Linked DNA regions of Homo sapiens: region 2 is linked to region 1. Evidence: fine-mapped QTL for protein levels in blood plasma. A gene starts in region 1. The other region holds a variant in brackets. All regions are shown on one strand. Distances are from middle to middle. Region 1 holds the start of COL6A3 (collagen type VI alpha 3 chain). Region 2 overlaps COL6A3 (collagen type VI alpha 3 chain).

Region 1 (5,369 bases):
AGAAACCGTGGAGTGGAAACACCTAAAACGTGCTTGTTCAGTTAACCTCAGTTTGCTGAGCTGCTTGGAGCATGGGGTTGTAATCAAAGATTGTCTTCTTCGCAGCAGACAATGTTCTGGGAGAAATAGTCCTCCTTAGTGCTGAAGTTGCAGACTCTAACCAAGGGGGTGGCAGCAAGTATCCCCGGTCTCTGTAGGGGCTTGAGTCAACGCCTGCACTGTGCAGAGAGGATGAGGGCAGAGAATTGGATGCCGCTGGAGGGGCGTGTTGTCCTTCTACATGTCATGCAGGCAGCGCGGTTCTATACTCGGAGCCTCTGCTCAGCGTGTCTTCACCTAAGAACCCCATAATTCAGGTTCCATCCTTGTTCCCTACTCCAGTGCTCTGCAAGTGAGCCCTTTGGTTTAGAGATGGGTTGGGCTTCTTTATGGGAGAGGAAGGGAGCCCTGGAGCTGCAGAGGGGAGCAGGCATTCTCTCTGGGGTGCTGTCTCCTTTCTTCCCTAAATTGGAGGGAGATAATCCATGGAAAGGAGTTAATGATTTCTTTGCTCTTCAAACTTGGTTTGGAAGGATCTCTCAGTCAAAAAGAACCTTTCGGATGTCTCTTGATATTTCACATTAATGGACTTTTCATAAGGACCACATGATGGGAGAGCAGTGAGAAGTTTGGGGATGGCCAAAGCTGGGTTGTCATTTGAGCTCTGTTACTAACCCAGACTGGACAATGACGATGTCACTTACTCTCTCGGAACTTCTTTTCTTTTCTTCTTTTCTTTTCTTTTTTTCTTTTTTCTCTTCTCTTCTCTTCTCTTCTCTTCTCTTCTCTTCTTTTCTTTTCATTTCTTTTCTTTCTTTCCTTTTTCTCTTTTTTGGAGTCTCACTCTGTTGCCCAGGCTAGAGTGCAGTGGCGCCATCTCGGCTCACTGCAACCTCTGCCTCCTGGGTTCAAGCAATTGTCCTGCCTCAGCCTCCCAAATAGCTGGGACTACAAGCGCCTGCCACCATGCCTGGCTAATTTTTATATTTTTAGTAGAGATTTAGTAGGGGTTTCACCATGTTGGCCAGGCTGGTCTCCAACTCCTGACCTTGTGATCTGCCTGCCTTAGCCTCCCGAAGTGCTGAGATTACAGGCATAAGCCACCGTGCCCAGCCTGTTTCTTTCATCTGTAAAATGGGACCACAATTTCACCTAATAAAAGAAGACATCTTTCTATTTAAAAGGGCTTAGGGTGTTGATGTTTGTGATAAAGGAGAGAATGTATATTGAAGTGTTTTGAAATGTGCAAAGCTTTCTAGAAACAGAAGTTCTTACTCAAGTATTTTCCCGAAGCTTTGGCAAGATAACCATTTTTATTACCCCGTCTGTGCCTAGAATGGGCCTATAAGCGCCACAATCAGAATCATTAGATATAGAAATTAAGAGAAATGTAGCCTCCTTTTTTTTGCCGGTGAACAGAGCTTTGGTTAACAGAAAACCAAGGCGATTTTAATTGCTGGTTTTTCTATTTGAAGGGGGAAGTTATTAGTAGAAGTCTCAATTCAGAAACTTCAAGAAGAAATGGGAGGGTGTGGTGAGGGTAAGCGGGGGACTGCATTTCCTGTTTTCCTTTCAGATGGTGTTGGAAAACATTGCAGGAAAACCATGGATACCCACGAAGAAATTCCAAAATTTATTCTTTTTGACGCCAAGGGCCCAGCCCAAAAGGTGACGAGTAGGAGTGGTCAATTTTTTTTTTTAAGAGTTGGGGCTTGCAGGAGTCCAGCTAAACGCTTGTAGGGTGAAGACAGAATTCAGAGGGTGACATCAGCCTGAGCGGGGGCCAGAAGAAACAGAGTGGAGGAGTCTGGTTTCATTTACAGTTTTGGGTCAGTTCTGCAGTGAGGAGGGGGAGAGGAGGGGTCCGGGAGGGAGGAGGAGGAGGAGGAGGAGCTGGAGGAAGCCCTGACTGGTATCCCTGGCCCCAGTCCAGTTTGGAGCTCAGTCTTCCACCAAAGGCCGTTCAGTTCTCCTGGGCTCCAGCCTCCTGCAAGGACTGCAAGAGTTTTCCTCCGCAGCTCTGAGTCTCCACTTTTTTGGTGGAGAAAGGCTGCAAAAAGAAAAAGAGACGCAGTGAGTGGGAAAAGTATGCATCCTATTCAAACCTAATTGAATCGAGGAGCCCAGGGACACACGCCTTCAGGTTTGCTCAGGGGTAAGTGTGATTTCTCTTCTGTTTTTCCAGGTTTGGGGCTAGAAGGAAATGCTCTTAACCTGAAGTGATCCTTTCTAGGTAGCGTTAGTGGCTCTTACGTTCATGCTGATCGCCAGTTTTCTGTACATGTTTTAGGTCTCTGGAAGATTCCGCTGATTTTTCTTTCTCACTTTATGGCAATGGGATTTCCTTAAATTGGTTAAGGTCATGATTGCCTAAGAGTGTGAGCACTTTTCCACCGCGTGTCTGTGGCTGCTACACGCGCCCTGTGCATTCCGGGCGGCAGTGTGTTTCGGCCCATGATTTATTTAAGTTACTGCCGCCTTCTAAAACCCATTCGGGATCCGCTTTGTTTGCAGAAGCGTCTTTGCTGAGGACTAGCATAGCTCCCTGCCGGGCGGCTCCGCTGGGAGATGTTCTCTGAGCTCTCTGGGTGGTGACACTAGGTCAGGGTGCAACAACCTGCATGGGTTTTCTGCCCAGGGCCGCCCATGGGAAGGTCCTGGTGGAGCACATTTGCTGCTTTCACAAGATTGGAGTAACTCTGGTGCTCAGGATCAGGGCCAAGTAAAGGGTCGCTCAGTCATTGCCGTCAAGCTTTCGTCTTTCCAGGAACCTGAAGTCTCTATTGGAGACTTTGTCCCTTGGGGTTGCTTAAAGGAGTTGCAGGGGTCAGAGGAGAAGAAGGAATTGGGCATTTGGGCAGCATGCTGAGTGTCTAAGGCAGGGCCCCTGGGGCTGCAGGGCCAGCCCATGCTGCACAGAGGTGAGGCCAGTGCCGAGCTGGGAGGCCCCGAGGGCTGTTCTCTGGCCCGGAGGATGCAGGGTGGGGCTCGGGCCCTCTCTTGCTGAGGATGGACACGTTCGCTGACAGTGGCCAGCCTGTTTGGGGAACCTGTTTCAAGGGGCCTACTATGTTGGATAATGAACGGGTATTGAAGTATGGGTGGGGTCACTGGGAGGGACTAGGGAGTGGTTAAAGAAAAATCTGCTTCCACAGGAAGCCCCAGGAGCCAGTTTCGAGGCCGGTGCAGACCCCAGGAGCAAACCCCTCTGAGCACAGGGGAGTCTGCTGTGCTGGATGGGGAGGCAGGGCTGTGGCCCCGGCTGACTGGCTTCTCTCCCCACATACAGCTCACCCCGGCGAGGACCACAGGGTGCTAGAGCTGCAGGGTGCTCAGAGCTCACGGGGATGGTGGATGCTCAACCTGGGATCCCCCAGCTCCCCAGGGTCCCATTCTTAATGCTGTAAAAAACAACCGAAATGGCTTTAAAATCAAAGTTACATTGCTCCTAAGCAAAACTATATTGAAAACTGAGTGGGTGGCCGTTGATGACATTACTGGGACTTCTGAGGTTTTTGTTGGGCTAAAGATAATGGAAGAGATTTTTGGTCAGAAGCCACTGATGCAGTAGTTTCCTGGTTTTCAAAATGAGCAACCAGGGGCTCTGAGATGCGGAATTCCTTGCCCAGGCCAGGGAGCGAGTGCCTGAGATGGCAGTGAAATCCTTCCCCATTGAAGGAGAGCAGACAAGCCAGTGACGGAGGATCCCAAATAACTCACATCTCGTTGGGAAAACTGCTTTGGGCTCACTAAGACTCTACCAATGAACCGAGAAAGAAGGGAGGTGGACCGTGGGGCGGGGGCATCGGTTCCGTGACCGGAATACCGGGGCTGGCCGCCCTGCTCAGGCCACCTCCTGGGGGTGGAGGGCGCTGAAGGAGGGGACCTGTATGCTCTTCTTTCTGAAGTGGGCTTGTAGCTGAGGATGAAAGCCTGGGTGGGGAGGCGTGGCTTTTACAAAGATCAGGATGTAGGAACAGCTGCCTGTCTGGACTTCTTTGTTTAGGGGGTTTCTTGCTACCCAGAGGTTTAGTTCTCTCCTTTCCTCACTCATGGTCGAGAGAAGCCAGGAAGCAGACACTGAGTGGAGCAGAGGGCTTGGGAAGGAATTCCATGTTGGGGTGAAGTGAGGCTGTCCTGGCTTTTCCTATCCAGGCATTGGAGGGTGTGGCTACAGCACCTTTCTGGGAGGTGGCTGGGGAAGCCTCTAGAATGTTAGCCCTTGGCCCCGCTCTTTCCCTGCTTGGCAGGGAGCGTGTTCCACCCCACTATAGTTGTGGCCCACAGGTGAGGGGACATGTGGCAAATGTCCAAACCTGGGGTCTGAATGATATTTTTGATACGAGGTAGGCACCTTTCTGAAAAATTGTCTTTACTTCACACTTCATTTTATTTCTAAAGCATTCAGGACTCAGCAAATTGCACTGACTTTATCATCAGTGCCTTTTGTGATTTCCTATCCTAGAACTTAATACGTCCCCGATGAGAAAGTAGGAAGAAGCTCCTCTCTTCAGTCGATTGTTGATTTATGGTTCCAATGAGGCTGCTCATCCTGACCTTAGTTTCAGGAACGGAACCCATAGACCTGGATGCCTAAAGCCAGCTTGAAACAAGACCGCCTTCTTTGGAAGCTTTGGAAGCTGGCAGTGACTTTTTGCCAGCGAGGTTTCATTTGTTTCCTTGCTCAGAGTGTTCAGACAACTGGATCAAGCGTAGTCTTCACCAGCGGTTGATATCACCTCCCACTTATATGTGAAATTCCATGTTTAGGACTTAAAATTCACCGGCAAGTCGTGAATACTATTGCGTGACACTTCCTTGCAGGCGCAGTAACAGCTTTAGCAAAAATTTTTATTTGAAAGTTCAGTTTTGTCACTGCTCTTTTTGGAAGAAGCTGAAAATCTGCTATCTCTTGGGGGAAGGATTGCAGGCGGTTTCCATCTGACAGGGATGTTGTGTACCAGGCAGCTTTTCCACCCTGACTTACGGGAGCAAACTTTTCATGGTGTCCTGGCTGCAGCAAGCAGGCAGTAAAAAACACATCACTGCTACATAAATAGCTGACGATTTGAGGAGGGACCTGACATTTAAAGAAAATCCTATTAGCTCTAGCTAAGAAAATGAAAGCCGCAAACCCTCCAAATTTTAAAGTGGGGGAGCTTTAAAGTTTCCTACTAATTCAGACAGCCATGAACTAGACAAGAATGGTTATCTTCATTCTCCCGTTTCTAGATACAGCTTCTCTGTTTCCACTGTAAAACTTCAGTGGAATTCAGTGTAAAAATTCAGTGCAAAGAAAGGACAATCCTATTCTTTAAATAAAACATGTT
Region 2 (5,369 bases), 89 kb after region 1:
CAGTGTCCTTATTTTCCACTAGTAAATCTTACAGGGTCTCAGTAGTGACTCTCACTGAAATAAGGGCAGAAAACACCAGTGCCGTGGTGTGGAACTGGAGGGCTAGGGTGGAGGGCCAAGGAAGCTGGAGAAGCCAATCAGACGGGGAGTGGAGTGTGCTGCTGTGAGGCCACTCATGGGCTGGGTGTCCGTGGCTCTGGGCAGACCTCTCGTGACTGGTTCAGCAGAGCCCAGGGGACTGGGAATTGAACAGCTAAACACAGATGGTCAGGACTGAAGTGCACTTGAAACAAATAAAATAGAGCAAATAGGGTCCATTGGCCAACGCTCTGGGAAGGAAGGAAGAATAGGGAGATCATTTGACGCCGGCCTCACGCTAACAGGGAAGCCACCAGTAAATGAGGAATAAATTTTGATGGTTAAATTACCTTGCCTTGTCAGTTCTCTCCAGGACCTTCCTTGACAGCCAGGCATTTTCCTTCAGTTATTGGCATATTTGAGAGAAAGAAGGTTGTTTTTGTAAATTGTCTTCATTTTATTCTGACTTCCTGGAGTCTTCAAAGGCTCTCGTGGGGACCACTGGCTTTCTGGGCCCTGAGAGCGTCTGCAACTAGGAGGTGTTGTAACTGTGGAGCCACCAGCCACCAGCCTGGAATTTGGGTGACAGCAGCAACCAGGAAATGTTTTAGACCAATTCTGAGCCTCAGTCCTGTGCACCTTTGAGTCTGGTCCATCGTGGGTGATCCAAGCTATGATTATCCACTGAAGACTTAGGTTTTCCTTGTCCTTTTTGGTATCTATCTGAAGCACAGATGCTCACCACCTCCGCAGCTGTGAGCAGCCTGCCTCGCTGGGGACAAAGGAGATGGAGAAGCATCTCTTTGTAGGGGAGAGCTGGATAATTCCAGCCTGTTAGCTACTCACAGGAACATGCAGAATTATTGGCTCCAGGGAGTTTTGGAGAAAGAAGGTTTACGTTTTCAAACTTACAGATAACAGTTGACATCAATGCTTCTCTTTCCCAGAACAATCTGGAGTTTGCCAGAAAACTCTGTAAACAGGAGTCGTGCTGTGTGTGAACTGTAAACTCTTCTCTCCAGGCGTCGAGGGGACCTTTGCTTTACTTTGCAGCTGGGCTACATCAGACGTGTGCATTGGAAACATAAACTTCCTTAACTGGGAAAAGAATGCTTCTCTGTCTTCAAAATAGTTCTGCTATGTGACATTTTTGCCATCATGAATTTTACATCAGTGCTAGCTCTTTGTTTTACGTGTTTCATTTGGCAGGTCACAAAGGCTCTTGGCTACCACACATACGTGCATACACACACACACACACACACACACACACTCATAAAGGATTTTCTTTTCTGCTTTACCTTTAATTTTCAGTCTACTTGGCTTGTAATGAAAGGTAGAGCCTTATTTTTGAACTATATCCCAACAGAATCGAATTTCCATTTTGCCAAGAATTATAAAACCCTGAGGTTTTAAAATTCAGTTTCTTTTCTGGGGATTTAACATGGAAGGACTTGGAGGGCAAATGGCCCAGTGATTGGAAAGGGGAAAAACAATTCATTTCATTTAAAATTATTCAATAACCATTGCCAGCATTTGGGATTCTGAGTGCTGTTTATGAAGCCCTTTCATTGATATAATTTCATCTATCTCTCACAAGGCTGTAAGCAATTCCTATGTCCATATGGCAGTGAGGAAATGGAGATTTGAGCAGGTTAAGGGAGTTTTCACCTGGAAGCTCTTCTTTTTTTTCCTTCTGCCACAGTAGGGTCATCAGACTGTCAGCCCCAGCACTGGGAGCCGAGTAACACGCATGTTCTCATTAATATCCTTTTCTCATGTTTTTATTAAAGATATATGCAAGTTGCCGAAAGACGAAGGAACTTGCAGGGATTTCATATTAAAATGGTACTATGATCCAAACACCAAAAGCTGTGCAAGATTCTGGTATGGAGGTTGTGGTGGAAACGAAAACAAATTTGGATCACAGAAAGAATGTGAAAAGGTTTGCGCTCCTGGTAAGTGATTCTTCCTTGTGTTTATGGCTTCTGCAAATAAGAGATTCAGGTCAATAAGTCACCTTGAAAAATATTAGAAGTGCAATGATTATGATACATGTGAAAAAGAAGATAAAGTGTATCCTCAGATAAGGAAGACGTTCAAATACAACCCATGAAATGTCTTTTTGAATTCCTATTTTGGGTTTCTAAAAACATATTGTCCCTTGTCATTCTTCAGAAATGTTACTAAGTTGCTGTTATTTGTAAAATATTGCACCAAAAATGATTCCTGGGAAGATAATATAATGAACAACTACAGATAACGCCAAAGATAAACAACCCCCACAAATTTATCTTTTAAATAGTTTTGCTTCCTATAAATAACAATGTTGTCACTGGGGCCATCCAGTATCTCCATTATATTGTGCAGTTCAACTGGTAATAAAATAAACACTTTGAACAGAGCCTGGGGTCAGTGCCAGAATGGGGAGAGTTCAGTTCGTATAAAGGCCTGGTAGATGGTGCAGGGCAAAAGAATGGGATCAGATTTCCCAGACATCCCTGGGCCCCGGGGCCCCAGGCCAAGAACGTCACAGAGGGCCTTTGATGGTACTGAGTAGAAAAGTGGGACAGGTGATGGAAACCAGAGGCTGCGGGACTGTGTCATGATAATGACAGTGCCCTTTTGGGTCAGTAATGTGGCTTTTCCTCTCTTCTCTCGGCTCCTCACCTCACCC[C/T]ACCCACCCCCTCTCTCGACGCTCAGTGCTCGCCAAACCCGGAGTCATCAGTGTGATGGGAACCTAAGCGTGGGTGGCCAACATCATATACCTCTTGAAGAAGAAGGAGTCAGCCATCGCCAACTTGTCTCTGTAGAAGCTCCGGGTGTAGATTCCCTTGCACTGTATCATTTCATGCTTTGATTTACACTCGAACTCGGGAGGGAACATCCTGCTGCATGACCTATCAGTATGGTGCTAATGTGTCTGTGGACCCTCGCTCTCTGTCTCCAGGCAGTTCTCTCGAATACTTTGAATGTTGTGTAACAGTTAGCCACTGCTGGTGTTTATGTGAACATTCCTATCAATCCAAATTCCCTCTGGAGTTTCATGTTATGCCTGTTGCAGGCAAATGTAAAGTCTAGAAAATAATGCAAATGTCACGGCTACTCTATATACTTTTGCTTGGTTCATTTTTTTTCCCTTTTAGTTAAGCATGACTTTAGATGGGAAGCCTGTGTATCGTGGAGAAACAAGAGACCAACTTTTTCATTCCCTGCCCCCAATTTCCCAGACTAGATTTCAAGCTAATTTTCTTTTTCTGAAGCCTCTAACAAATGATCTAGTTCAGAAGGAAGCAAAATCCCTTAATCTATGTGCACCGTTGGGACCAATGCCTTAATTAAAGAATTTAAAAAAGTTGTAATAGAGAATATTTTTGGCATTCCTCTAATGTTGTGTGTTTTTTTTTTGTGTGTGCTGGAGGGAGGGGATTTAATTTTAATTTTAAAATGTTTAGGAAATTTATACAAAGAAACTTTTTAATAAAGTATATTGAAAGTTTCCTGGGTGTGACGTTCTTGGCAGTCTTGTTTCCATAGCAGCGATTGTCAGAATCACCCCTAGGCTGGGGAAACTGGGTTTGGTTCTGGCCCCATGGAGCTGTGCAACAGCCTTTCGTTTCCAGTGGAGGAGGCAAAAGAGCTTTATCAGCCAGTGTGCAAAGAGACCGGCTGGAGACAAGCATCCCCCGCTTTGTGGATTCAGCCCCACATGCTCCAGTGCTCCATGGCCGAGCGGAAGGTGTTCCTGCTGTTGGGTCCCGGCAGTGTTTCTGATTTTCAGAGTCAGGCTGGCTTCTATCTTTTCCTCTGACTCTTGGTTGGCCCTCAGAGCCTCAGCCTCCTCCTGTCTTCCTCTCCACAGTGATCCTTTCCCAGGGGGTTGATTTGCTTCCTCTCACAATGGCTGAGAGATTCAGTGTTGCCCCACGACCCCCAACCCCTTTTCTGGAGTCTCAAAGCACAAGGTCTTTCATTTTTTTGTTTTTCTTAAAGACTGTTTTTTTCTCTCTTCAGAAATAATACAAGAAACCAACAAATACATATTCAGGTGGCACTTGAGTTCCACTTACAAAGGAAACAACTTATTGGATAAAATACATATGTCCTGACAAGTGCTGAGGGTAGAATTACAGGAATCTTGGGTGTCAGCAGAAATGTTTTATGTAAAATCGGGATGAATTTGCCAGTTGGTCTATTGGGAAAGGAGAGAGGAGTGTGGCCCTCTTCAGAAGCGCCACTTAGTCCCCACAAGGTCGCCATGACCTCCTCCCCAGTCCTCTTCTATCTCGGCAGCTACCATGGGGTGCTCAGGTCAGTGTGCTCTGAGCTGTGACCCTTGGTGACCAACCCTGGGATCTGCCAGGCACCCAACACCAGCCTCTTGCAGGAACTTGCGGAGCAGAGAGCTGTGGGCCCAGCTCCCATAGCGGTGGGCTGAGTGCTCCACTTCCCAAGGGATCCCTGCCCCCGCCACCCCCATTGACTTGATCTGCTATGGACCTAAAATGAGCATCACAATCTGGTTTTACTTTTTGGGTTCCTCCGGAAGCAGCCCTTAGGACTAAGGATATGGGTGTGAGTAGTTTATTTGGGAGGTGAAGGAAGTCACTGAGTGGCTGAGAAGTGGGGAGTGAGACAAGCAAAGGGAGAGCACTGTTAAGAGGTGTATAGTCAGCGTCCACTGTGGGTGCCCAGAGCCCAATCCCTCGGGGAAACCCTGGGAGGTGCACCTGTGGCACTGCACCTCGTAGGCCAGCAGAGGGCTGAAGGAGTTTGGGTAGTCATACACCTGTTTCCACGGGTCACTGAGGCATTCATGCTCTGGTCCTCTTGGCTTGCAGGCACACTGGCAAAGGGGCCTTCTGTAGTGTAAGAAAATGTTCTTGGCAAAGACCTGCAGATACTCCCATGTGGAACTTGGGGGAGTAGTCAGGCCCAAGGTACAGGAGTAGGACACCAATATTTGTAACATACCTAGATGGTCTGCTCAAGGTGTGTTACAATAGACTGGGGCAGGGCCCATCACTAGGAGACTCACTTCCAAGGGCTCCAGAACCCTCTCTCCCTTTCCACCTCCTGTTGCCAGCATGCCCATCCCTGCCATTCTTGGTTCACTCTATCTATGCATTGCTTCTCTGTGTGTGTCCCTTGGCTGCTCAAGGTTGCTGGGACAATCACACCCACCATCTCACCTGACTCAGGAGAAGCAGGAAGTGATGTAAGTCCAGGTGAGTGGCTGGTTAAGCTGTGTGTGCTGCTAACTTAGGGTAAGGCAAGGTGCTCAGGTGGTG

Evidence for each region. A credible set is the group of variants that fine-mapping cannot tell apart. PIP is the chance, under the fine-mapping model, that this variant and not a neighbour inherited with it causes the effect. Sun 2018 read protein levels with aptamers (SomaScan).
Region 2: its variant is the best candidate, but not a certain one, in a credible set for the plasma level of the COL6A3 protein (Sun 2018, PIP 0.53).

The regions. Positions count from the first base shown.
Region 1 is chr2:237,410,778-237,416,146 of GRCh38, reverse strand. COL6A3 (collagen type VI alpha 3 chain) reads left to right here and starts at 1,983. Exons shown (of 44, transcript NM_004369.4): 1 at 1,983-2,194.
Region 2 is chr2:237,322,227-237,327,595 of GRCh38, reverse strand. COL6A3 (collagen type VI alpha 3 chain) reads left to right here. Exons shown (of 44, transcript NM_004369.4): 43 at 1,872-2,036; 44 at 2,782-3,578. The coding sequence ends at 2,822. Among named protein-coding and RNA genes, the nearest start is that of COL6A3, 89 kb to the left of the region's middle. RefSeq lists an enhancer at 1,889-3,088. The variant C/T (reference allele first, on the strand shown) is at 2,756.